3 linked regions of the Homo sapiens genome follow. The protein of the gene in region 1 interacts with the protein of each later gene in a biochemical or structural test. Each region holds a gene or a part of one and is shown in the gene's direction. Other genes may lie near its edges.

The links. The genes of interacting proteins can lie anywhere in the genome.
Region 2: the proteins of PIAS1 (region 1) and MBD1 form a complex in vitro, tested with the Homo sapiens proteins (one study listed by BioGRID).
Region 3: of the proteins of PIAS1 (region 1) and CHD3, one has a biochemical effect on the other in vitro, tested with the Homo sapiens proteins (one study listed by BioGRID).

The regions. Positions count from the first base shown.
Region 1 is NC_000015.10:68,085,293-68,092,314, forward strand, and holds part of PIAS1 (E3 SUMO-protein ligase PIAS1), read left to right. Parts: intron 1-1,013; coding exon 1,014-1,458; intron 1,459-2,552; exon of another isoform or gene 2,553-2,598; intron 2,599-7,022. UniProt on the Homo sapiens protein: Functions as an E3-type small ubiquitin-like modifier (SUMO) ligase, stabilizing the interaction between UBE2I and the substrate, and as a SUMO-tethering factor. Catalyzes sumoylation of various proteins, such as CEBPB, MRE11, MTA1, PTK2 and PML.
Region 2 is NC_000018.10:50,278,515-50,285,995, reverse strand, and holds the start of MBD1 (methyl-CpG-binding domain protein 1), read left to right. Parts: upstream 1-4,472; 5' UTR 4,473-4,633; exon of another isoform or gene 4,634-4,779; coding exon of another isoform or gene 4,780-4,832; intron 4,833-5,978; coding exon of another isoform or gene 5,979-6,003; coding exon 6,004-6,113; exon of another isoform or gene 6,114-6,120; intron 6,121-7,481. Other genes in the region: CXXC1 (CXXC-type zinc finger protein 1), read left to right, coding at 68-247, 645-671, 749-994, 1,157-1,276, 1,434-1,618, 1,895-2,102, 2,181-2,291, 2,432-2,481 and 3 more. UniProt on the Homo sapiens protein: Transcriptional repressor that binds CpG islands in promoters where the DNA is methylated at position 5 of cytosine within CpG dinucleotides. Binding is abolished by the presence of 7-mG that is produced by DNA damage by methylmethanesulfonate (MMS).
Region 3 is NC_000017.11:7,891,776-7,898,797, forward strand, and holds part of CHD3 (chromodomain-helicase-DNA-binding protein 3), read left to right. Parts: intron 1-1,510; coding exon 1,511-1,794; intron 1,795-2,029; coding exon 2,030-2,160; intron 2,161-2,339; coding exon 2,340-2,490; intron 2,491-2,639; coding exon 2,640-2,833; intron 2,834-3,141; coding exon 3,142-3,375; intron 3,376-3,563; coding exon 3,564-3,767; intron 3,768-5,307; coding exon 5,308-5,519; intron 5,520-6,195; coding exon 6,196-6,327; intron 6,328-6,720; coding exon 6,721-6,820; intron 6,821-7,022.

The DNA.
Region 1 (7,022 bases):
AGTGATTTCTTCTCTTTGGATTCCATTTTCCACCACTTTAAAATGGGAGGATTGGTATAGATGGTCATTTCCTATTAGTAGGTGGGGAAAAAGGAGAAAGGGGGACTAAATAAGTTTGCGAACATAGGTAAACAAAGTTAAATAGATTACTGCAGCCTCATGCATTATGGCATATGAATTGGGTTGCTGGACTTCTAGCTTGGCCTTGCAAGTTAAGTGAGAGTCAGTAATATGAGTCCAGCTCTGTCTTTTTCCTAATGGTTTAGTGGAAAGAGCATGGGCTTTAGAATCAGACATATCTGGGTTTGAATCCTGACTACTCCTTAGTAGCTTTATGGCTTTATAAGTTATCTAACCTTTCTGAACTTGTCTCCTCATGTATAAATCAGGCAGGATAATACCTTGCGGAGTTGTAAAGATAATGACATTCCATGTGAAAATATCAAATAGAATATCTGATATATAATTGGTCAAAAAAGGTGTAACTTAAGTCTACAAATTCCAGAGTTAGTACAGAATGTAAGTAACACTTGATAATAGCTATTGATATCCTGCCTACATCTGGTGTTTGAGATGGACTGTTTGTTGTTTCATATATACTTATAATTCTTCCCCAAGAAAACAAAATATTCTTGAGAGCACATCATTACGTTTTGCCATCTACATAGCACTCGACATTCTCCTGGAGACTCAGTAAGTGCTTGATAAATACCTGACAGTTTCATCAAAACAGTGGAATAAAGTGAGGTGTGGTTTTCCCTGGTGTATACTTTATCCTATATTTCTTATAACCAAGGGTAGAAGTCAATGAATTTATGAATATTAATTTTAAATTTCTTTGGTTACTTAACGTTAAATGATTAAATTTGAAGTTTGAAATAATAGGATTATAAGTGAGCTGGCCTTTATTTGCTTAAGTAAACCATAAGAAGGGGGTTATAATAAAGTGTCATTTAATAGTGTAAATTATATTATTGGAATACTAATGTTTTACATTTTGTTTTTTCTCTAAGCAAATGGTTATGAGCCTTAGAGTTTCTGAACTCCAAGTACTGTTGGGCTACGCCGGGAGAAACAAGCACGGACGCAAACACGAACTTCTCACAAAAGCCCTGCATTTGCTAAAGGCTGGCTGTAGTCCTGCTGTGCAAATGAAAATTAAGGAACTCTATAGGCGGCGGTTCCCACAGAAAATCATGACGCCTGCAGACTTGTCCATCCCCAACGTACATTCAAGTCCTATGCCAGCAACTTTGTCTCCATCTACCATTCCACAACTCACTTACGATGGTCACCCTGCATCATCGCCATTACTCCCTGTTTCTCTTCTGGGACCTAAACATGAACTGGAACTCCCACATCTTACATCAGCTCTTCACCCAGTCCATCCGGATATAAAACTTCAAAAATTACCATTTTATGATTTACTGGATGAACTGATAAAACCCACCAGTCTAGGTAAGATTATTGTATGATAGTATTTGGTTACTTTTGCAGGATGAATTTTCGTTTTAGGCTTTTACTTTGACCCAGTTTATTATTCATAATGAAATTTTCATTTGATAGTAACAGCTGGATAATAATGAAGATCTTTCAAATTTAGATAAAATCAAATATATAAAAGCTGTCTTTCAGGAAAAAAGGTAGTATAGTGATGGTTACTGACAAAGTAAATATTAAAAAGTTTCAAGAATATAAACTTCCAAAGAGTAGTATTTTAGAAGGTTGATTAATATTTTATAATATCTCATAAATTAAATTAAAACCAAATGAATCACTACAAGTCTCTGATTAGTTCTTAATTTTCAGGGGTTGATGATCTCTAAAACAAATCACTGACTAGTTTTGATTATTTAAATGAGTGAATGGTTTTAATGATCATAAAAGGAGACTTGAGCTTTGATGTATGCTAGTTAAATTTCAGCTGATTTTTTTCAAGTGGAGAAGTGCATGCTTTACAGGCATGCACATGCACATGCACACTCATGATTACGGTTATATAATATAAGTGCTTGAAATTTATTTTACTGTGTTGTTCCATCATTTGATTTGTAGTCTAGCATATAGAATTCAATATATTAATCAACTTGTAATTTTAATTGCTATAATGCTACCTTATTTATTTAACGTAGAATAAAACTCAACTGTTGTGACCTCTGATGCCTTTGGTATAATATATTTAAAATATCAGACTTCTAAATGCTGGTTTGTTGGCATACTACGGCTGGCAAGCTAAGTCCAGTCTGTGGCCTGTTTTTATGTGGTTCTGAGCTAAGAAATCTGAAAAATATTCCCAAAGAGTTATTAACAAAAAAGGAAAGAAACAAAAACAAAGAATGTGTAACGGAGACCATGTGTGCCTGTAAAGCACAAAATATTTACCCGTATAGTAAAAGCTTGTGAATCCCTGTTACAGATCATTGAACATTTCAGTTTGGGGGACTGGCAAGTGTTGAGAACATTTTTTGCGAATTTTTGAGAACATTTTGAAAATGTTTACTGAAATTCTATCTTTGAAATATGAAGTGTTTGTTTTTAATTATATTTAGCAGAAATTATCTGAATACACGAAGATTATAGGAGTCATTTTCAAACAACGTGAGTTTTGTATCACATTATTTTATTTTTTAAGTGGCCATAATAAGAAAACATTTTTTGAGAATCTACTGTATGCTTATAAAACTGACACATGCTCATTGTAAAAAATGGAATTGCCAAAGTTCCTTCCTTGTTAGCTGTTTAGTGTGTATGCATATATAGTATAAGCAAATTGTTTCTTGTTTTTTACAGAAGGAATCATATACATAGTATTGTATAACTTCCCTTTTTTCCCCTTAATAATATATCATATGCATCTTTTCTTGTCTGTCTGATTATGTGTGTGTATATATATATATATATATATATATCCCATTTTAAATTAAAGGCCATATCTGTATCTATCCATATCTCTGTATATGGTCTGTGTACATGTATGTATGTGTACATATGTGTTATGTATTGATCAGTTGATGAAAACGTTGTGACCAGGGGCTTGCAGGAACCTAACCCTATACTTCCCCTGGTAGCAGTGATTATATATTCGCAAATTCAGTGTTTGTGGTGATTTTATGAACATAAATGTCACAAATAGCAATAATTGACTATATTTGAAGTATGATTTGAATGCCAGTTTTCATGAATAAATCTGCTGTTTGTGGTATGTATTCACAGAAAGTCACCAAATGAATAGGTGGTATAGAATTGCTTAGTGATATGTAAATAGATTTTCAGTATCTCATCGTTATAGAATTAAAAACAAACCAATTTAATATGCATAAAAAGATCTCACCACAAAGTAATTTGTGGAAGTTTATTGGCTCAATAAATATTTGTTGAAGGGCAATGCTTATTGAATGTGAAAAATATTTATTGAAAAAAGATTTTATGTAATTAGTCTTCAGGGTGTAGGATGAGTATATTTTAAGGCTCTGTTTTTATAAATTCTTTAACATTATTAAGACTTTTTCTGTACTTCATTAAATGAAGTGGCTACATTTGTCACATAACTTAGTTTCCTAAATGATTATTTTTGCCGGTAGTTCATTTGTTTTAAATCTAAGAAAACCACGTTTTCTGGAAAATTAAATAGCTTCCAGCATTCTCTTCATTTCTAAACGTACATACATTTAAAATCAAGTTTTTGAGAACATAGTTTCGAACACCAGCTGGCTAGTTGATCACAACTATCACTGAGTCCAGAATGGGACAGGCACATTTACTTTTTCATTTTTTCCCTTCCATTGTGGCCTTAAGCACTAGATTTAAACAGATTTTAAGATGTTCAAATGTAAACTGAATGTTTTTATGCATGGTTTTGTATTTCTAACTAAAATGGAAGACAGTAGTTCTGATAATTCCCATTTTATTAGGTAATTCTCATTCATTCTTACGATCATTTTGTTATTTCTTTAAAACAATTTAAAATAATTTTAAGGCCTTTATTTTGGAGCCATAATTAAAGTATTCTTTTCATTGTCCATAATTAACTGTAAGAATTGAGAGGTGAAGTAAAAGGTGGTTGTAAAGTAAGATGTTTAATTTATTGTTTACTTTGGCCTCTCATTATCTCAATTCTGTTTGTTTCTATGAGGCTTATTTCAAATGCTTTTTTTCTTTAACCTTTTTCATTTATCTTTCTAGGCTGTCCTCCTTTCATCTGTACATTTCTTCCCCAGCCAGAATCAATTTCACTTTCCCTGCATGCTCTCATAACATTTATTTTTTATTTTTATTTTTTTGAGACAGAGCCCCATTCTGTAGCCCAGGCTGGAGTGCAGTGGCACAATCTAGGCTCACTGCAACCTCCGCCCCACTGGGTTCAAGTGATTTTCATGCTTCATCCTCCCAAGTGGCTGAGACTTACAGGCACGTGCCACCATGCCCGACTAATTTTGTATTTTTAGTAGAGATAGGGTTTCACCATGTTGGCCAGGGTGGTCTTGAGCTCCTGACCTCAGTTGATCCGCCCACCTCGGCCTCCCAAAGTGCTGGGATTACAGGTGTGAGCCACTGCACCCGGCCTCATAACATTTATTTTTTAAATTTTATTTTATTTTATTATTTGAGACAGGGTCTTGCTCTGTTGCCCAGGCTGGAGTGCACTGGCACAATCTCAGCTCACTGCAACCTCTGTCTTTCCGGCTGAAGCAGTTCTGCCACCTCAGCCTCCCCAGTAGCTCAGACTACAGACACGTGCCACCATGACTGGCTAATTTTAGTATTTTTAGTAGAGTCAGGGTCTCATCATGTCAGCCAGGCTGGTCTCGAACTCCTGGACTCAAGTGATCTTCCCACCTTGGCCTCCCAAAGTGCTAGGATTACAGGCGTCAGCCACCACACCCAACTTAAATTGTATTTAATAATAATAATAATTATTATTATTTTTTGAGACAGGGTTTCGCTCTGTCATCCAGGCTGGAATGTGGCGGCGAGATCTTGGTTTGCTGTGGCCTTAACCTCCCTGGCTCATGCAATTTTCCCAACTCAGCCTCCCAAGTAGTTGAGACCACAGGCATGCACCACCACACCTGGCTGATTTTTGTTTTTATGTTTTGTAGAGTTGAGGTCTCATTATGTTGCCCAGGCTGTCCTAACATTTAATTTACCCTTTATTAAATGTTTTTGTTTTGTTCCTCAAAATGATAAGGCTTCTGAGGCATTTATCTATAAATCCCTATAATAGCTAGATATGAACCTGTTACATGGTAGTTCAGTAAACATTTATTAGCTCTCCAACTCGTTTTAATGCAGTAGATGGAATCTTTTATTTCATTTTAATTCAGTGGATTTTAACCATTTTACCTTGCAAACACAACTGAGCCATACCACACTCTGTAATTACAAACAGTGGCTATGATAGGGATGGGAAATAGAGTAGGGAAGAATGGTATTCTTCCTCTTATTGCCCTATCCTGTCATCTCTGAGGTTAATTGATGTCTTTGAAATTTAATATACTCCATTTAAAAAAAATTTTCCCTAATTACAAAAATGTTATGTTTAATGTAGAATCCATAGAAATTATAATTACTTGCTTACTTTACAGATAAACTTTTAAAATACTTCTGTGGTATTCTTTTTGTTAGTCATTTACGGGTGTGTGTGTGTGTGTGTGTGTGTGTGTGTGTGTGTATTTCTGGTTTCATTTTGAAGGAGAGGAGAACCTCACTAGCTCACGTAACCTGGCAGCCGCATGTATTATTGATCCATATAAATAATGGAAGAAAATTTTAATCTTGATAGGATGTTGAGCACATGTGTTAAGGGGTACTTTGTTTGAAATACCTTATTGCTTAGTGTGCCAATATTGGTGTTGATGAGGTGTGAAATTTACATAATTATGAAAATAAAAGGAAAAATAATTTTGGATTAAAATATCTTGTCCATTCAGGGACAAGATAATTATTTGATATTTCCTCTCAATCCTTTAATATTGTTTTGTTTAGAATAATACCTGTATCATTCAAAATAGTTTATAATATTGTTTATAGTTATTGTTTAAATTGGCTTTGTTAGAACATAATGGCAAAAACACAGAATACTTTCATGGTAAATAAAATAATAGTTCTTTAGGATACAGTATTTGATTTGATTCAGACTTAAGTATAAACAAATCTATTAATAGATTTATATTTGTTACTAGTTTAGCTATTTATATCTTCCTTGACTCAGGTAAATTTTCAAATAGAAAATACATTTTTAATATAGTGCTTTTAAATATTTTTAATATTTTTAATTATTTCAAAGGCCAACATGTATAGAACAGAGAGCTTTGCATTCATTTGGACTACAGATACTCCTCTGGTTATGTCCCAATAAATCCATCATAAATTGAAAATATCCAAAGTCAGAAATGCACTTAATACACTTAACCTACCAAACATGATAGGTTAGCTTAACCTACCTTAAATGTGTCTAAAACACTTACATTAGCTGACATAACATCTAACACAAGTCCTGTTTTATAATTAAGTATTGAATAGCTCATGTAATTTATTGAATATCGTACTGAAGTGAAAAACAGAATGGTTTTGTTACCAACAGAATGGTTGTGTAGGTACTCGAAGTAATTTCTACTGAATACCTATTGTTTTCTTACCACCATGAAGTTGGAAAATTGTTAAGTCGAGCCATCTGTAGTCATATAAAAGTATGGTGACTCATCTTGTTTGCTTTATATGAGATTGAAGTCAAATTTTACCTTCTCAGGGGATGTCTTTTCAAGTTTTTAAATATCTCAGGCAATATATCTGAATAAGTTCACATCATATGTCTTTATTGATTAGAGATTTCTCATTGATTGGTATGAGGCATAATAATTATTGACTATGAGTGTTACTTATTTTTTTTCTTTTTTTTTCCGAGATGGTCTCGCTGTATTGCCCAGGCTGGAGTGCAGTGGCACATTCTTGGCTCACTGCAACCTCCGCTTCCTGGCTCAAGCGATCCTCCCACCTCGCCTCCTGAGTAGCTGGGACGACAG
Region 2 (7,481 bases), on another chromosome or scaffold:
TGTGTAAAGTGGTTCCGTTTCAGCCCTGCCTGGGTCCATGATTTCTGTTCTGGGCCCCCTCCTGCAGCATCACCAGCAGCAGCAGCAGCAGATCAAACGGTCAGCCCGCATGTGTGGTGAGTGTGAGGCATGTCGGCGCACTGAGGACTGTGGTCACTGTGATTTCTGTCGGGACATGAAGAAGTTCGGGGGCCCCAACAAGATCCGGCAGAAGTGCCGGCTGCGCCAGTGCCAGCTGCGGGCCCGGGTGAGCATGGACAGAGCTGGGTAGGGTCAGGTGTGGGAGAGCTGGTGGGTCCATGCATGGTTAGTTAAGTCTAGGCATGGATAAACCAGGTGGGATTGGGCCTGACTGTATCCTGACAGGTGGGAAGGGGCCTGTCATGTCCAGATGAATGGGGCATGACCTGGTATGCTGGGCTGGCAGAACACCCCCACCAACCCTGGGTAGACAGAGTGGGGCCAGGTGTTTTCAGGTGGTCATGCATGTTGGTACAGATCAGGCAGGGCTGAGCATTCCTGGCAATGAGGGGTAGCGGGGAGGTGTGTCTGGGGAGGTAAGGCCAGGCCAGGTGGGTAGGGCTAGGGCAAGGCCGCCCTCCATCCACCTGGGGCTGACCTGGGCCTTCCTCCTGCCGGCACAGGAATCGTACAAGTACTTCCCTTCCTCGGTGAGTCCAGCCCCCCAGGGTGGGGTGGGGCATGCGGGCAGGGCGGTCAGGGCCAGTCCTGAGATTCTGCCCTGCAGCTCTCACCAGTGACGCCCTCAGAGTCCCTGCCAAGGCCCCGCCGGCCACTGCCCACCCAACAGCAGCCACAGCCATCACAGAAGTTAGGGCGCATCCGTGAAGATGAGGGGGCAGTGGCGTCATCAACAGTCAAGGAGCCTCCTGAGGCTACAGCCACACCTGAGCCACTCTCAGATGAGGACCTACCTCTGGATCCTGACCTGTATCAGGACTTCTGTGCAGGGGCCTTTGATGACCATGGCCTGGTGAGCAGACAGGAGCATCCACTGGTGGAAGGGTGGAGGTTACAGAAGCAGAGAGTATCCCTAATGAGGAGACAGAGGGTATGGAAGGCTGATATGGGACATGAGTAGGTGGTGGGGTTGTCACGAGCGGGGCAGGTGGGTCAGTGCATGCCCTGCTTGCAGCCCTGGATGAGCGACACAGAAGAGTCCCCATTCCTGGACCCCGCGCTGCGGAAGAGGGCAGTGAAAGTGAAGCATGTGAAGCGTCGGGAGAAGAAGTCTGAGAAGAAGGTGATGGAGAGGGTAAAGTGGATGTGGAAAGGCAGAGGGTGGGGTTGAGGGAGAGGCAGAGGTCAGAGGCTGAATGGGGCAAGAGCCAGAAAGGGCTAGAATGGAGCAAGGGTCTGGGGTCTGGGGCTGACTTTGACTCCACCCTGACCTGACTTGTCTTGCTCAACAGAAGGAGGAGCGATACAAGCGGCATCGGCAGAAGCAGAAGCACAAGGATAAATGGAAACACCCAGAGAGGGCTGATGCCAAGGACCCTGCGTCACTGCCCCAGTGCCTGGGGCCCGGCTGTGTGCGCCCCGCCCAGCCCAGCTCCAAGTATTGCTCAGATGACTGTGGCATGAAGCTGGCAGCCAAGTGAGTCATTCCTGAGAGGTTCAAGGGAGTCAGGAAGTGCATGGTAGGGCCTGACCACAGCCTTCTGTATGTCTACCAGTCAATCAGCTATCCACCAGTCACCAAACAGCCACTACCCACTCACCCATCCACCTACCCACCCACCTGCCCGTGTGTCCATCCAGCCACCATTCCGCCAGTCACCTATTTACTTCTCCTTTTGCCATTTGCGTCTATTTTGCCATTCTCACTTACTGATCACCTCACTCATTCTGTTGCTTGCTACCTTCCCTGCAGCCGCATCTACGAGATCCTCCCCCAGCGCATCCAGCAGTGGCAGCAGAGCCCTTGCATTGCTGAAGAGCACGGCAAGAAGCTGCTCGAACGCATTCGCCGAGAGCAGCAGAGTGCCCGCACTCGCCTTCAGGAAATGGAACGCCGATTCCATGAGCTTGAGGCCATCATTCTACGTGCCAAGCAGCAGGCTGTGCGCGAGGATGAGGAGGTGAGCAAGCAGGGGCGCAGCAGAGCAGGGCCTGTACTTTGTCCTTCCCAGCCTTATTGTTCCTTCCATTCCATGCAGAGCAACGAGGGTGACAGTGATGACACAGACCTGCAGATCTTCTGTGTTTCCTGTGGGCACCCCATCAACCCACGTGTTGCCTTGCGCCACATGGAGCGCTGCTACGCCAAGGTTGGGGTGTCAGACTGAGGGGGCGGACCATGTGGGAACATCAGTGGGCCAGTGGGGGACAGATTTGTTGTCTGGGTGGTGTCTTGGGAGGGCATGCAGCGCACATCCACAGTTCCCTCCATTTGTGCTCATCCCTCCAGTATGAGAGCCAGACGTCCTTTGGGTCCATGTACCCCACACGCATTGAAGGGTAAGTGAGGGTGCCACGCAGTGAGAGGTGGGGGGTTAAGGCGGGGGTCAGAAGTGGGATGTGTGTGGAGCTGGGGCAGGATACGGGCAACCAGCCAGGACAGATGGACCTCCCTTCCCTCCCTCTACTGCCCTCTCTACTCCAAATCCCCAGGGCCACACGACTCTTCTGTGATGTGTATAATCCTCAGAGCAAAACATACTGTAAGCGGCTCCAGGTGCTGTGCCCCGAGCACTCACGGGACCCCAAAGTAAGGTTTTCCCTCAGCTCCTCCCATTTTGCCCCTCCTCCCTGCCTCGCTGTCCCACATTCATCCCTTCCTTCCTCACCTCACTTTTCCTTCACTTTTTCCTCTCAGCTTCCCTGCTGCTTCACCCTCCATTCCTCCTTTTCCATGCCTCCTCACCGTTCCCTGAACCCTCCATTCTTTTCCTTCTCCCTCCTTGAGCCCCCATTCCTATTCTCCCTTATCACCGCTATTCATCCCCCCAACCTGGCCTCCTTGCAGGTGCCAGCTGACGAGGTATGCGGGTGCCCCCTTGTACGTGATGTCTTTGAGCTCACGGGTGACTTCTGCCGCCTGCCCAAGCGCCAGTGCAATCGCCATTACTGCTGGGAGAAGCTGCGGCGTGCGGAAGTGGACTTGGAGCGCGTGCGTGTGGTAGGTTTCTGTGCGGTTTTGGTGCTGCATGTGGTAGGTTTCCATGTCGGACGTGGCCGGGGCAGGCGGGGCTGCAGGTGTTCCTGCTTAGGACTCCTGCCGCTCCCTTGGCAGTGGTACAAGCTGGACGAGCTGTTTGAGCAGGAGCGCAATGTGCGCACAGCCATGACAAACCGCGCGGGATTGCTGGCCCTGATGCTGCACCAGACGATCCAGCACGATCCCCTCACTACCGACCTGCGCTCCAGTGCCGACCGCTGAGCCTCCTGGCCCGGACCCCTTACACCCTGCATTCCAGATGGGGGAGCCGCCCGGTGCCCGTGTGTCCGTTCCTCCACTCATCTGTTTCTCCGGTTCTCCCTGTGCCCATCCACCGGTTGACCGCCCATCTGCCTTTATCAGAGGGACTGTCCCCGTCGACATGTTCAGTGCCTGGTGGGGCTGCGGAGTCCACTCATCCTTGCCTCCTCTCCCTGGGTTTTGTTAATAAAATTTTGAAGAAACCAAGGAAGCTGTCTCCACATTGCTGCGGTTGCAACTGTTCCAGACTTCTGGATAAGATGGGGGGCGCCTGCACCCCGCGAGAGCCCAGGGACCCACATTCCCAGCCTCCCACGGGCAGAGGGTCTACGCAGCGCGCCTTCAGTGTGGTGACACCGCCCATGCATGCTCCTGTCTCCCACCCAGAGCTGTCGTCCGCTGTGGACGCCAGGCCCCGCCTTTTCCCCACAAGCCCCACGTTGGGGATCCGCCTCCTGCAGGGGCGCGCCCTCCCGCGTGCCTCAGTTTACCTGCGGTGTGGCACCGCCCCTTTCCCCGCCCCGCGCGCTCCCACAGCTGTTCGGCGGGGAGGAGGGAGCGGGACACGACCCCCCCTGGGGTTGATGTTCGGAGGGACCCACGAACACAGGATAGACCCCAGCGAGAGGTGGGAGAGGAGAGCGCCGGCAGGGCCAGGGAGTGCGCAGGCGCGAAGCAGCTTCCTTGCCGCGTTCGGTATCGGCTGTGGAGACCGCGGGAGGGAAGGGAGGGCGCAGGCGCAAGCCCTCCCCGACCGCTTCCCTTCAGGTTGAGGCTGGAAAGCGCATGCGCCAGCTAGATGGGCAGCGAGGAGAGCCGCAACTGCCAGTCCCTCGAAGGGGTTAGCTGTCGTTGAACGTCAGCACGCAGATGCAACTGGCTCTCGGCAGGGGGGCGCGCGCACCGCTGCGGAGCGCCGGCCCGTAGGCGCGGGAGCCTCCCTATTAAGGGCACGCGACATCGAGGCAATAGTGCGCAGGTGCTTAGCCAGAGGCGGAGCCCGAGAGGCAGGCAGCGGACTTCCGGTTCCGGGAGCAACGAACAGCCGCGGAGGCGACAGCTACCGCTTCAGAGGAGGCGGCCGCGGAGGAGGAGGAAGGGGAGGAGGGCGAGGCGGGAGGTGCAGGAGGGACCCTCGCCATGGGTCCACGGGCCTAGAGTGGCGGAAGATACCGGCCTGGTGCCAAACTGGTGAGACAGCCTTGGGGCTGGACGTGGAGAGCGCTCAGGCGGAGGATGGGAAGGAATTGTGGCTCAGAACGCTGACGGGGAGGAATGAAGGGCCCTCAGGCCGATAAGGGGGAGGAATGGCGGCGTCGGAATACTGACGAGGAGAAATGGGGGGATTTAGGCTGAGGACGGGAAGGAATGCAGCTCTGAACTCTGACAGGTAGGAGTGTCGGGATCCTGGGACGAGGACGGAGAGGAATGGTGGAGATCAGAACGCTAAAGGGAGACATCGGGGCATCTGAAGTTGAGAGAGAAATGGGGGTTCAGAACTCTGAGAGGGAGAAATGAGGGGCCCTCAGGCTGATGACAGGAGAAATAGAGGCTTTGGAATGCTGAAAGGGAGGAATAGGAGGCCCCATATAGAGGACGAGGAGCAGTAGGGGATCAGAATGGTGACAGTTAGGGATGGCATGATCCCGGGACAAGAACAGAGAGAATGGAGGAGGGTTCGGAATGCTGAGGGGAGAAATTAGGGTCTCTCTGGATGATAAGGGAGGAATGGAGGATGAGAACAGTAAGGAGGAGAAGTGGGGAACTTTTTGGCTGTAGAGGAAGGTTTGGGAGCTCAGACTAGGGAGAAATTGTGGGTGAGAACATTGAAGGAGAAGAAAAATAAGGGGGGAGGTCTTGGGCTGAGGAAGGGGAGGCATGGGAGGCTTCCAGTGTGAGGAATGGAAAAGATGAGGGGCTGTTCAGGCTATGGGTTGGAGCAGTTGTGTCTCGCAGAGGAAGTCGAGGTTGTAACACTGAGGTAGCAGGATAAGAGGACATCAGGCAGAGAAGGAATGGAGTGGTTAAAACACTGAAGGAGGGAAATTAGGAACTCCTGGGTCAAGGAAGGGGGGAATGAGAGACTACTGAAGTCAAGTAGTGAGGGCAAGAGAAATGGGGCCCTTTGGGGCTGAGGATGGGGACTATGGGGGTCTTGGGGTGATAAAATAGAGGGATAGAGGCCCTTAGGTCAGTGACAGGGAGGAATGAGGGGGAAGGATGAAAAGTTTCTGGATTGGCAGTGAGGAGAAATGATGGGTTGTCAGTCTGAGGATAGAGAGGAGTAGGGGATTAGGACACTGAGAATAAGAAACAGGGATCCTTGGGTTGAGGAATGATGATATCCTAGGCCCAGAATAGGAAAGAATGGGGTGAGAATATGAGGGGTTTCTTTTCCATATATGGGCTGGTTGCCTGTGGCAGGTCCTAGGGCTTGGGCAAGCACTAATGGATACCAGTGATTTGTGTGGCCTGGGGCACAGTGTTGTCCCTTCCTAGAGCCTCAGTTTCCCTCATCCCTTCCACCCCCTTTCAGGCTACTGCTGCTTCCTGTGGCCTCCATGGCTGAGGACTGGCTGGACTGCCCGGCCCTGGGCCCTGGCTGGAAGCGCCGCGAAGTCTTTCGCAAGTCAGGGGCCACCTGTGGACGCTCAGACACCTATTACCAGAGGTACTGGGTGGGTAGTGGGCAGAGTCAGGAGTGGGGTAGAGCCTGATTCTGGTAAAATCAAATGGTGTGGTTAAATTTATGGATGAAGTTTAAATTATGCACATACAGTTAATCCTTATTAGCGGATTTTATGTTTGAATTTCACCTACTTAATAAAATTTATTTGTAACTTAAAAGTCACTACTCACAGTGCATTTGTGATTATTCAAGAATACGTACAGAGCAGTGAAAAACTGTCACTCAATGCATGTATTTCTAGCTGAGGCTGAAGGAGCCCTTTTCAGCTTTAATACTGTAAACAGGTGTCCTTTTCGTGGTCTGTTTAGTGTCACATTTTTCTAATTTTTGTACTTTTTGGTGATTTTGCTTTTTAAAATGGTCCCCAAGCATAGTGCTGAGGTGCTGTTTAGTGTTCTGTGAGAAGACTATGTCGTGCTTTATGGAGAAAATACAAGGCAGATAAACTTTGCTGGTTATCTGAGTTACAATGCTGTTGGCTGTAAGTTCAATGTTATGCATCAGAATTATGGTACAACCAGAAAAAGAAGGAAATTTGCCAATATGTGCACAAAGCTGCTTCAGAAAGTACAGAAAGCATTTATAGTCTTGAAGCTATGTAAGAGATGAGAAAGCAGCTACATTGGTGGGTTCATGAAATGACGATCAATAAAGCATAGTTGACAGCATTGTTGAGGAAAGCCAAAGTCATGTTACCCTGGGTTAGGAAAATATTAAGGTTATATCAGCTAGTGCTGGCTGACTTGCACATTTCAAAAGGCGACATGGCATGAAACATGTTAAACCTGCATGCAATGCAGGTTCTGCTGATCAGGAGTCTTCCGAAGAATTTTAAAAATACCTGTTAAGTGTTGTACAGGAAAGGGGTTGTGTGGAAGAGTGGTTTTCAATGTCAATGAGATTGGCTTGTTAAACAAGAATATTGGCAAAAAACCTTACATAACACATACGGCCTCCAAGTCCCCTGGTTTGAGTCATTCAAAGACCATGCAAATAATCATTTGTAAAAAAAAATATGTATTAAGTAATGTGTGTTTAAACAGAAACACACACAAAACAAAAGTTCAGATGCTCTCAGGAACCTAACCCTGTATTTCTTCTAGGAGCAATGGTTTTGTATTCAATGTTCATGATAGCTTTGTAGAACGTAACTACCATAACTAATGAGAGTCAACATAGATGTTTATAAGCATTTACATGTGTTTAAGAAACATTATTAAGTTTCTATATTCTTTCTGATTTTTTAAATCTAAGTTGCTATCTTTCCAGGTAAATATCAAATTACAAATTACTTTTTGTTTATATTTAGTTATAATTTATTCACATATTTATGTACTTGTATAAAACTTT
Region 3 (7,022 bases), on another chromosome or scaffold:
GCTTGAACCCGGGAGGCAAAGGTTGTAGTGAGCCGAGATCACACCACTGCTATGCTCTAGCCTGGGCAACAAGCGAAACTCCGTCTCAAAAAAAAAAAAAGAAAAAATAGTGCCGATGTATTTTGTTTTGGGGAGAAGGCACTTTAACATATCAGTTCAGTGCTCTGGAGGCAGCTGCTGAGGTTCACATCTGGTTACATTTTGGGCAAGTGACTGAACTTCTTCAATCCTCAATTTCCTCTTCTATAAACGGGGAATAATAATATATACCTCATAGGAATCTGTGTGGGTTTGGTGGGATAATGAATGGAAAGCACAGTACCGTCAGTGCCTGGCTCCTAGGGAGCATTCAGTAACTGGTGACTGTCATTAGTAACGTTGTCTCACCTACCTTACTGCTGAACTTGGGGCTTTTCTCAGCACCATGGATCACCCGTGTCCGCACAAGAGTTGAGCACCCCACCCCAGAGCAGAACCAGCATGGTCTGACTCTTTCACACTCCGTCCTACGGAAGCCCATCTTCAGGGCCCATGGAACTTACTAGTAAAATGCAGAGAATCATAGCAACTCAAGAGTATTATTGTGAGGACAAGATAAGGTGGAATGTATGTGAAAGGGTTTTATGAACTGTAAAGTAGTATACAAAAGTAAAGCATTTTTGTTGATTTTATTTTAACCTTTTATGCTTTTAAGTTTTATTTCGCTGTTTTTTATTTCCCCTTTTTTTTTTTTTTTTTTTGAGATGGAATCTCACTCTGTCGCCAGGCTGGAGTGTAGTGGCGCAATCTTGGCTCACTGCAACCTCTGCCTCCCAGGTTCAAGCAATTTTTCTGCCTCAGCCTCCCGAGTAGCTGAGACTACAGGTGCGCACCACTACACCCAGCTAATTTTTGTATTTTTAGTAGAGACGGGGTTTCGCCATGTTGGCCAGGATGGTCTCCATCTCTTGACCTCGTGATCCTCCCACCTTGGCCTCCCAAAGTACTGGGATTACAGGCGTGAGCCACTGCGCCCAGCCTATTTCCCTTTTTTTAAAGACAGGGTCTCATTCTGTCACCCAGGCTGCACTGCAGTGGTGTGATCATAGCTCACTATATCCTCCAACTCCTGGGCTCAAGCCACCCTCCTGCCTCAGCCTCAGGTGCTGCCACACCCAGCTAATTATTTTTTTTTATTTTAATTTTTTGTAGAGACAGGATCTCACTTTGTTGCCCAGGCTTATCTCATAGCCCTGGGCTCAAGCAATCCTCCTGCTTCAGCCTGGAATTACAGGCATGAGCCACCGTGCCTGGCCTGTATTTCTTTTTTAATGCTTTTTTAAACCTGTTCTTTCCCCGCTTTTTTTAAACTTCTTTTTATTTATTTTTTTAAATGGCTGTTTTTCCTAATAGGACATATTCTCACCACCCAGGAATCCTAGCATGTACATAGATTTAATTGATGAGGGGAGATGGCAGTGTTCCCAGACCATCTGTGAAGGGTCCGAGTTTTCTGCTTCTATATTTACAGGCCCCTAATTGCTAAGAAGAATCCTAAGATCCCAATGTCTAAGATGATGACCATCCTTGGGGCCAAATGGAGAGAGTTCAGTGCCAACAACCCCTTCAAGGGGTCAGCAGCTGCTGTGGCGGCGGCAGCGGCAGCAGCAGCAGCAGCTGTAGCTGAGCAGGTGTCAGCTGCTGTCTCGTCGGCCACCCCCATAGCACCCTCCGGACCCCCCGCCCTTCCACCACCCCCTGCTGCTGATATCCAGCCCCCACCCATCCGAAGAGCCAAAACCAAAGAGGGCAAAGGTAGGGAACTCTCTTCCAACAACTGTCATCTCACCTTCCAAACTGCATGTCTTCACATTAGAGTCTGGAACTCTCGCCTTCCCAGCCCTGATTGCTGGAGGAGAGATGCTTTCCAGGAAGTGGGGCTTAGTGAAACCACAGCCCACAGAGGAATCCAGAGGCCCCTGTGACCTCCATAATTCCAGGATGTCATGACCTCTCCTTTTTCCTCTTCTCACCCCGACTCCTCATTCAGGTCCAGGCCATAAGAGGCGGAGTAAGAGCCCCCGAGTGCCTGATGGACGCAAGAAGCTTCGGGGAAAGAAAATGGCACCACTCAAAATAAAACTAGGGCTTCTGGGTGGCAAGAGGAAGAAAGGAGGCTCGGTGAGTGACCCGTCCCTGTCTACTAAACACCTGGGGGCCAAGGATCCAGAGACAGGGATCCGTGAGGGCCAAGGATCCAGAGACAGGGATCCGTGAGGGATGGCGGAACAGGAAGCCAAAGGCCTGGGGAGGGCGTAGAATGAAGTCTGCCTCACTGACGGCCACGGGGCTATGGGCAGTATGTTTTTCAGAGCGACGAAGGTCCTGAACCAGAGGCTGAGGAATCAGACCTGGACAGTGGCAGTGTCCACAGTGCCTCAGGCCGGCCTGATGGCCCTGTCCGCACCAAGAAACTAAAGAGAGGCCGGCCAGGAAGGAAGAAGAAGAAGGGTAAGGAGTGTTGACTGTGTGTGATCCTGTCAGTGGGCCGTCCTCTCATTCTTATTTTCAATTTTGACTTCTCTCTTCAACCCTTCTCCCTCTCTCTCTCCATCTCCCCCTGCCCTGCTTCCTTATCCCTCCACCGGGGTATATGACAGTCCTGGGCTGTCCTGCAGTGGCCGGGGAGGAGGAGGTTGATGGCTACGAGACGGATCACCAGGATTACTGTGAGGTGTGCCAGCAGGGTGGGGAAATTATTCTGTGTGACACCTGCCCTCGTGCCTACCACCTCGTCTGCCTTGATCCTGAGCTTGACCGGGCTCCAGAGGGCAAATGGAGCTGCCCTCACTGTGTGAGTACCTAATGCCAGCATCTGATGGCCCTGAGGAACCCACCCATCTCTTTCCCCCTTGGTTTCACTTACCCTCTTCCTGCCCCCAGATGGCTGGACTTCTTAGTAACAGATGTCCGAGTGTCTAGGATCCTAATGTATTCCTTTCTCCCACAATCAACATTTCTGAAACTGGAGTGTCCTTTTCCTTAGTTCCCACCAGTCTTCTCTGCACTTCTAGGATTCAGGTGTCCTGTCTTTGCCTGTATCTTCCAGTTTCATTCCTTAATTTCTTCCATCTGTCTGTGTGTCTATCCTTGGCCCCCTAGGAGAAGGAGGGGGTCCAGTGGGAGGCCAAGGAGGAAGAAGAAGAATACGAAGAGGAGGGAGAGGAAGAAGGGGAGAAGGAGGAGGAGGATGATCACATGGAGTACTGCCGCGTATGCAAGGACGGCGGGGAGCTCCTGTGCTGTGACGCGTGCATCTCCTCCTACCACATTCATTGTCTAAACCCTCCCCTGCCTGACATTCCCAATGGTGAATGGCTGTGTCCCCGATGCACAGTGAGTGGAAACATCTCCCCTCTGTATTTACTGTCAGGCCTGATCCCTTCCCCCATCCCTGGGGCCCACATGTCCAGCTTTTCATTTCTCTGCACTCCCCCACCCTTGTGGGACCCCTATCTTCTCATCTAACAATGGGTTCTTTCTGCCTCTTTCTTTCCTCCTCCTTGTACGTGTCCATCCCAAAGTGCCCCGTGCTGAAGGGTCGAGTGCAGAAGATCCTACATTGGCGGTGGGGGGAGCCACCTGTAGCAGTGCCAGCCCCTCAACAGGCAGATGGAAATCCAGATGTCCCACCCCCCCGTCCTCTTCAAGGCAGATCAGAGCGAGAGTTCTTTGTCAAGTGGGTAGGACTATCCTACTGGCACTGCTCCTGGGCCAAGGAGCTTCAGGTACTAGGACCTTTTCTTTCCCTCTCCCCCATGACCTCATTTCCTGCCATCCTCTCCCTCTCTTACTCCTCTGTTTGTTGGGTTCCCATACTCTTTGTTTTCTCTCATTTCAGGCCTGTGGCCTTCATACCCTACTTGCTTAGTTTCCATATGTGGTTCTTTTGGTCTACAGTCCTCTTTCTCTCAGTCTCCGTTAGCTTCCTTCCCTCAGATATAGCATAGCCTTTCCTAACTTCATGTCCTTCCTTATCTGTCTTTTTCCATGTTTTATAATATTCCTGGCTGGGCATGGTGGCTCACACCTATAATCCTAGCACTTTGGGAGGCCAAGGCAGGAGGATTGCTTGAGACCAGCCTGGGCAACATAGTGAAACCCCATCTCTGTTTAAAAAAAAATTCTCGGCTGGGTGTGGTGGCTCACGCCTGTAATCCCAGTACTTTGGGAGGCCGAGGTGGGCGGATCACCTGAGGTCAGGAGATCGAGACTATCCTGGCTAACATGGTGAAACCCCATCTCTACTAAAAATACAAAAAAATTAGCTGGGCGTGGTGGCAGGCACCTGTAGTCCCAGCTACTCAGGAGGCTGAGACAGGAGAATGGCGTGAACCCGGGAGGCGGAGCTTGCAGTGAGCCAAGATCGTGTCCCTGCACTTCAGCCTGGGCGACAGAGCGACACTCTATCTCAAAAAAAAAAAAAAAAAAAAAAAAATTCTCAATGTTTCTAATCCCATTCCCTATCTCTTGCTTGTAAGAGCCCCACCCAGGCCTTGTCTTCTGAAACTGTTGCATCTGTTTCATTTTATTTATTCTCCGTCTTGGCTTTGACTCATTTATCTCTAATCCATCCTTTTTCTTTTTTTTTCTATTTTTTTTTTTTTTTAGATGGAGTTTCGCTCTTGTTGCCTAGGCTGGAGTGCAGTGGCACGATCTTGGCTTACTGCAACCTCTGCCTCCTGGGTTCAAGCGATTCTCCTGCCTCAGCCACTCAAGTAGCTGGGATTACAGGCATGCGCCACCACGCTTGGCTAATTTTGTATTTTTAGTAGAGACGGGGTTTCTCCATGTTGATCAGGCTGGTCTCGAACTCCCAACCTCAGGTGATCCACCTGCCTCTGCCTCCCAAAGTGCTGGGACGCGCCTGTTATTCTCTTATTGCCCCGGCTGGAGTGCAGTGGTGTGATCTTGGCTCGCTGCAACCTCCGCCTCATGCATTCAAGCGATTCTCCTGCCTCAGCCTCCTGAGTATCTGGGATTACAGGCGTGCGCCACCACACCTGGCTAATTTCTGTATTTTTAGTAGAGACGGGGTTTCGCCATGTTGGCCAGGCTGGTCTTGAACTCCTGACCTCAGGTGATCCACCCGCCTGAGCCTCCTAAAGCACTGGGATTACAGGCATGAGCCACCGTGCCTGGGCCAATCCATCCTTTTTCATAGCTCCCTTTCCCTGTCCCATTCCTCCTGCCGGCCTCTTCCCGGTTCCTTGTTGTCCTCTGTGAGTGTCAGGACTATCTCTTTCCCTTTTTTCTGTGCCCTGCTAGCTGGAAATCTTCCATTTGGTTATGTATCGAAACTACCAGCGGAAGAATGACATGGATGAGCCCCCACCCCTGGACTATGGCTCCGGCGAGGATGATGGGAAGAGCGACAAGCGTAAAGTGAAAGACCCGCACTATGCTGAGATGGAGGAGAAGTACTATCGTTTTGGCATCAAGCCAGAGTGGATGACCGTCCACCGCATCATCAACCACAGGTGAATCCTCGGTCCCTGGGAAGTCAGACCTGGTATATGACATTATTCTTACCATGGTGATGGCCCCATGTTAGTATTTGCTGATTAACCAGGTAATTGATCTAACCTTGATAACCTCTGCTGTAGCTCCAGCCTTTCTGGCCTTGTTTCCTCCAGGGGAACGGGAGAAAACAGGAGGAAAATCCGGCCAGGCAGTGCCTCTTTTGTCCTTTGCCTCCTGTCATCTCCAGTGGCATAAGACATAGCACATGAGTCTGGGGATGAGGGCATGAAAGCAAAACATGAGAGACATAATTCATCCAGACCAGTGTTTTGAATGTTTCTTCTTCATAGTACTTATTACTGCCTAAACTTAATGGTATGTATTTAGTTATTTCAATGCTGCCTTCCCCACGAGACTCTGAGTTCCATGAGGAAAATACTTAGTGATTAGGTGAACAAATGATAAGGAGGGATCTCCAGGAATGTTTTGTGATAGCTGATTTTTAGGATACCATCCTGAGAAGGTTAGGCTGCTAGGTCAACTATTCCAATCTCCCTTCCAGCAGCTCACTGTTGACGGTTGGGTGACAAATTTTGTGTGTTTGCTGATAATTGCGTTTCTCAGGCCTTCTTTCTGTTTGTGATCTGTGCAATATTTTCCTCCTGCTCCTCCCCATGGCCTCCTGCCCCACAGTGTGGATAAAAAGGGGAATTACCACTATCTAGTAAAATGGAGGGACTTACCATATGACCAGTCCACGTGGGAGGAAGATGAAATGAATATCCCTGAATACGAAGAACATAAGCAAAGCTACTGGAGACACCGGTGAGGGAATGAGCTTGTGGATTCAAGGGATTCTGACGATGAGGGCATGAAAGCCAAAACTCCAGCATAAAATGAGGGTACAGTAGGGCCTGATTCAACCTGGAGTTCAGGGCAATGGCCACCTGAGCTGGGTTGTTTGAGATAGGCTTGCTAAAGAGGTAGTGTAAGGAACAGAAACAAGATCTGGCTGAGTAGTGGAGAAGAGGATGTTCAAGAGTGGGGAGGGCTGGCTCTTGAGGTGAAATCCAAAGGGCAAGGGTAAAGAGCCTGGGAAAAAGGAAATATGGGAAAATCTAGGTCATGGACAGTGGGAAGTAGGTCTGGAATGGGTTCAGAAAAGAAAGCGTAGGACTCCCAAGGATGAGGCCTCATTCAGACCCACTCTTTTTCCAGAGAACTAATTATGGGGGAAGACCCTGCCCAGCCCCGCAAGTATAAGAAGAAGAAGAAGGAGCTACAGGGTGATGGGCCTCCCAGTTCTCCCACTAATGATGTGAGTCCTCTCAGTTGTCATTTCTTGTTTCTGGAGTGATGGTGATCGAAGATTTTCCAAGGGCTACTGATGGAACTTCCCAGAGATTCAGTAACCTCTGTGAACAGTAGCTCTTCCTTCAGCATCCAGTCTTGCCCCAAGAGTGGCTAAGAATTTTGGCCTGAAAGGGCAGGAGCCACTAGAGATAGCCCACTGGTGGCTC